Regions from separate parts of the Homo sapiens genome. Here region 2 is linked to region 1. The links come from fine-mapping of genetic effects on gene expression. A gene starts in region 1. The other region holds a variant in brackets. All regions are shown on one strand. Distances are from middle to middle.

Region 1 (2,907 bases):
TATTCCTTCCTCTCTTTGGGCCAGTCATCTCATCCATGAAATAAAAGGCATGGAAAGAGGTTATCTCCCAGATTTTAATTTTTCTCACTTGTAAGTTATGGATCCCTAAGGCCCCTAGGAGACAAACACTTCCTCTGCTTAATCAAGTCTTATACTCCCATACATTTAATGGCAAACACTAAATGCCAGTTGTAACTTCTCTTTAGTACAAGTGAATTCAAAGTTCAAGAGAAACGAAAACCCGGAAGATGGCTGAGGAACCAAGGTAAGGATGGAAGACTGCTCTAAGCCAGGGGCTGGGGAAACCTCCCCGCCTCCATTTTTACTCTTCTCCAACCCACTTCTCTCCCAGCAGCCGAATGAATCTTTCTAGAAGCTGATAGTAACCACTCCCTGACTTAACATCTGTCAATACAGGGCTCTCAAGGCTCACTCCTTCAGGACAAGCCCCTGCCTTGACAACTTCATGGGTCGTGGTCTCCCCTTATCCCCACCCCAGCGCTCTCTACTCTGTTCTCTGAACCAGCCACCCCCAAGTTCCAACAGTTCTCAGAGAGAGTCAGACCCTTCCTGGACACTTCCTACGTAAAAGGGATTGAGAGGAGCAAACGAATGACTATCTGTACTGTTGCCCAAATACACTGCACACCAGAACTCCCCTCTCTTTCCCTCTTAGAGACATTAGGGCTCAAAGGGTTGTATCCTTATATAACCCCTTTCTACAACCATAGAAGAGGCTGCAGGGAGGCTGAAGTGACATGTCCAGGTTCACAGTTGAATTAGAACCAGGCTCCACACCACTGATTTGAAACCCTGGAGTCCTGATAGTGCTGTCAATCTGAAAGGGACATCAGGTATGGCCTAACTCAGCCCTCTCGGTGCACAGGTGCAGATACCCAGGGCTTCCCAGCCTGCCATCTCCCTGAACCTTCATTTATCAGTCCCCAGTCAAACGCACCTCCTCCTCCTCATCAGGTGTGCCAGGCTCACTCCTGTGGCCGCAGGAGGCCACACGCGGGCCCCGGGGTCATGGGGGCGACCGGCAGCTGCGCGCCCCAGCTGGCCGCCCAGCCCCACCTCCTGTTTGCCGCCCGAGCCGGGAAGGGGCGCCGCTCCCCGGGACCACACTCACTTGGCGCCCGCGGCCTGGAAGAGGTCGGCCCACTCCTCCGGGTGGAAGAAGCGCGCAGTGAACTGCGGTCCGAAGTCGGCGTAGCTGAAGCCGGGCGGGTAGTTGTCGCGCATGAAGCGCTGGTACTGCGGCCGCCCCTCGCCCTGCCAGTGCCACCAGAACCACTCGCTGCCCCAGGCGGGCACCGAGAACACGCCCCAGTGGATGAACACCCCGAACTTGGCTTCGTCGAACCAGGCCGGCAGCGGCCGAGAATCCAGGCTCGGCCAGTCTGGGGTGTAGCGGCGCGGAGGCTGGGCCCGACGCACCGACTCGGCCGCTCCGAGGAAGAGCAGCAGCAGCAACAGCGCGGGACCCGCCGGCCGCGACCTCATCCCCGGAGCCCGCATCGCTACCCCTCAGCGACGCGGCCCACTCTTAACGCGCAGGTGCCCGCGGGCGGCTCCGCCCACTCTGACTAACGATTGGCCCGGAAGGAAAAAGGGGTGGGACAACCTGGACAGGTTGGCCCGAGTCGCTTCCTCCTCGGGTCGGAGGAGCGCCCTCTGGTGCTCAAGAAGGGAAAGACGCAGGGAGGCGTTGACAGCGCTTCGCTGAAGGACGAATAAAAACCTTGAAAAGGGACTTAACTGCGAGGTTAAATCGTGGAGGTGAGCAAGGCCCAGTGTGTGCGGAGAACTCACATTTAAGAAGGAGTCCATTGAGCCGGACGCAGTGGCTCACGCCTGTAATCCTAACACTTTCGGAAGTCGAGGCGGGAGGATCGCTCTGAGCCCACAAGTTGGAGACTAGCCTGTCTCTATAAAAAATAAACAAAATGAGCCTGGCGTAGTGGTGCACGTCTGGAGTCCCAGCTACTCGAGAGGCTGAGGTGGGAGGTTCGGGATCGCTTGAGCCCGGGAAGTCTGGGCTGCAGTGAACCGAACCGTGATCACGCCTCTGGGAGTAGTCCATTTTGCCGCAGCAATCCTGCAGGGGTAGGCTGAAGTGAGATCACGAGTTTTATTTAGTGATCACTTGGGAGCCATAGGGGGCTTTTGAGTTGTCCTGTAGCACAAGGCTGGAGGAGGAGATAACAGACCGGAAGGGTATCTAACAGCCCTGACAGAAATAAGGAGGTAGAGGGATGATGGGAAGAAACGTTATGAAAGGAGAGGAAAGAGAAAACTGGGTACTGAAAGAGGGAGAGCGGGCAGGACCGTTTCATCTGTCTGGTATTTACTGAGCTTTCTTTGGGAATTCCGAGGCATTTCAAATAGCTTAGTTTGTACCGAGATACCGCCACTGCACTCCAGCCCCTGGGCGACAGAGCCAGACCAAGGAAGAAAGAAAGGAAGGAAGGAAGGAAGGAAGGAGGAAGGAAGGAAGGAAGGAGGAAGTGGAGAGCCAAGAGGACCCAGGATTGCCTGGCAGGGAAGTTCCCCAGTTCCTCTGCAATTTGCACATGCTGCACATACTCAAACGGGAGGTGAGGCCATTAGCGAGGGAAATACGGAAGTCAGAAGTCTCTGAACAGACAAGGTGGCTCACGCCTGTAATCCCAGCACTTTGGGAGGCCGAGGTGGGCAGATCACCTGAGGTCGGGAGTTTGAGACCAGCCTGGCCAACATGGTGAAACCCCATCTCTACTAAAAATACAAAAATTAGCCGGGCATGGGGTGCGCCTGTAATCCCAGCTACTCAGGAGGCTGAGGCAGGAGAATTGCTTGAACTCGGGAGGTGGAGGTTACAGTGAGCCGAGATCGCACCACTGCACTCCAGCCTGGGCGACAGAG
Region 2 (2,907 bases), 29 kb before region 1:
GGTCCCTATAAATGATATGGAAAGGTGGGAAGGAAGTGCTGGGAAGGGAAGAAGAGCATGGTCCCTATAAATGACATGGAAAGGTGGGAAGGAAGTGCTGGGTAGAGGAGGACGTGAGAACGTGGTCCTTGACTGCAGCTCCACCCCCACAGACCTAGGTGAGGACAGGCATTTTTGTTTTCCTGTCCCAATGTTGCGTTTCCCAAGACCACCCGGCCTGCCCCGCCCCCATCCTGTGCCTATAAAAACCCCCAAGACCTTAGCAGGCAGACACACAGGTAGCCGGACATGGAGAGGAGCACATCAGTGGAGGAACACACAGGCGGCTGGACGTCCAGAGGAGCACATCAGCAGGCACTGGCACGCCAGCAGGCCGCTGACCAGCAGAACGACGCAGAGTTTGGCTGGGACTGTGGAAGGGGGTCCCGGGCTGCTGAGTGGCCCCACTCCAGGGGAAAACCTTCCTACTCCATTCTCTTCTGGCTTCCAACATCTGCTAAGAGCTACCTCTACTCAATAAAACCTTGCACCCATTCTCTAAGCCCAGGTGTGATCCAATTCTTCTGGTACACCAAGGCAAGAACCCGGCATATAGAAAGCCCTCTCTGTCCTATGACAAGGTTGAGAGCCCACTCGAGCTGGTTAACTAACACAAGTCGCCTATAGACAGCAAAACTAAAAGAGCACCCTGTAACACACGCCCACTGGGGCTCCAGGAGCTGTAAGCATCCACCCCTACATGCTGCCGTGGGGTTGGAGGCCCACAGCCTCTGCCTGTCTGTATGCCCCCCTAGAGGTTTGAGCAGCCTGGCACTGAAGAAGCGAGCCACACCGCCCTCGCACGCCACACTCCCCTCGCACGCCACACCCCCGTCGCACGCCACACCCCCCTCGCACGCCACACCCCCGTCGCACGCCACACCCCCCTCGCACGCCCTGAGAGGGGGAAAAGGAACTTTACCCGTTTCAGTTGCACAACATTGTGAAAATAATGCCACTGAATTGTACACTTAAAAATGTTTAAAGTGACAAGTTTTATGTTACATATATTTTATCACACACAACAAAAGGGGTTAAACATACAGTTACCATATGACCCAGTAATTTCGCCTCTAGGTATATGAGGGGACTTTAAAAACTTATTGGAAAATGGAATCAAAATATTAAAATAAAAAATATAAACCTCATTTCTCAGTATAAGCTCTATCAAGGGCAAGACATTTTTGTAAAGCTATGATATGCATTTAGTTTACCTTTAAAGGGCAGAGGGTCCTGGGAATTAAACCACGTCAATGCAGTCTTTTTTGCATTATTAACTGAAGAAAAATGGGTGCCTTTTAAAGATTTTTTTTTTTTTTTTTTTTTTTTGAGACGGAGTCT[C/G]TCTCTGTCGTCCAGGCTGGAGTGCAGTGGCACAATCTCGGTTCACTGCAAGCTCCGCCTTCCGGGTTCACGCCATTCTCCTGCCTCAGCCTCCCGAGTAGCTGGGACTACAGGCGCCCGCCATCACGCCCAGCTAATTTTTTGTATTTTTAGTAGAGACGGGGTTTCACCGTGTTAGTCAGGATGGTCTCGATCTCCTGACCTCGTGATCTACCGGCCTCCAGCTTTTTTTTTTTTTTTTTTTTTTTGGAGTCTCGCTTTGTCGCCCAGGCTTGAGTGCAGTGGCGCAATCTCGGCTCACTGCAACCTCTGCTTCCCGGGTTCAAGCAATTCTCGTGCCTCAGCCTCCTGAGTAGCTGAGATTACAGGTGCCTGCCACCACACCGGGCTAATTTTTGTATTTTTAGTAGAGACGGGGTTTCACTGTGTTCGCCAGGATGGTCTCGATCTCCTGACCTCGTGATCCGCCCGCCTCGACCTCCCAAAGTGCTGGGATTACAGGCTTGAGCCACTGCGCCCGGCCCCTTTAAAGATTTTTTTAAGATTACAAAACAATAAGAAGTCAGGAGCGTTGTCCTGAAGTGGGGAAGTACTCTTTGGTGAAGCTTTCCCTGGCCTTTCTGTTTGTTTGTTTTTGAGACAGAGTCTCACTCTGTTGCCCAGGCTGGAGTGCAGTGGCACAATCTCGGCTCACTGAAACCTCCTCCTCCCAGGTTCAAGTGATTGGGAGGCCAAGGCGGGCAGATCAGTAGGTCAGGAGTTCGAGACCAGACTGACCAACATGGTGAAACCCCGTCTCTACTAAAAATACAAAAATTAGTCGCTTATGGTGGCGCAGCCACTCAGGCTGAGGCAGAATTTCTTGAACCTGGGAAGCAGAGTTGCAGTGAGCCGAGATTGTACCACCGCACTCCAGCCTAGGCGACAAGAGCAAGACTCCACCTCAAAAAAAATAAAAATAAATAAATAAATAAATAAATAAATAAATAAATAAAAGTTCTGCTTTATAAAGCTGAGGTGGTGAGTTTAAAAAATTATTTTATTATTATTATTTTTTTTTGAGACGATGTTTCGCTCTTGCTGCCCAGGCTAGAGTGCAGTGGCTCGATCTTGGCTCACTGCAACTTCCACCTCCTGAGTTCAAGCAATTCTTCTGCCTCAGCCTCCTGAGTAGCTGGGACTACAGGCACGCACCACTAGGCTAATTTTTGTATTTTTAGTAGAGACAGGGTTTCACCATAATGGCCAGACTGGTCTCGAATCCCTGACCTTGTGATCCATCCACCTTGGCCTCCCAAAGTGCTGGGATTACAGGCATGGGCCACCGCACCTGGCCTATCTGGGTGCAATACTTTTAGCACCCATTCAGTGGAAAGTTTGCTGAACTTTTTCAGTCAGAATTGTGTAAGCCGAACCAATTAGATGTCTATGATGTTGGCTGTTGTTTGGGCTGTTAATCGCCAGTTCTCTTCAGTTGGGACACAAAGTGAATTTTTTCCTCAAAAATTGATATAGATGATCTGCTGC

The links. PIP is the estimated chance that this variant, and not a neighbour inherited with it, causes the effect. A credible set is the group of variants that fine-mapping cannot tell apart.
Region 2: its variant is the best candidate, but not a certain one, in a credible set for the expression of FUCA1 in whole blood (INTERVAL, PIP 0.70).

The regions. Positions count from the first base shown.
Region 1 is chr1:23,866,766-23,869,672 of GRCh38, forward strand. It overlaps FUCA1 (alpha-L-fucosidase 1), which reads right to left and starts at 1,525. Exons shown (of 8, transcript NM_000147.5): 1 at 1,133-1,525. The coding sequence starts at 1,521. RefSeq lists a silencer at 937-1,156.
Region 2 is chr1:23,837,806-23,840,712 of GRCh38, forward strand. LOC105376861 (a long non-coding RNA gene) reads right to left here and starts at 831. Exons shown (of 3, transcript XR_947068.2): 1 at 259-831. The variant C/G (reference allele first, on the strand shown) is at 1,381.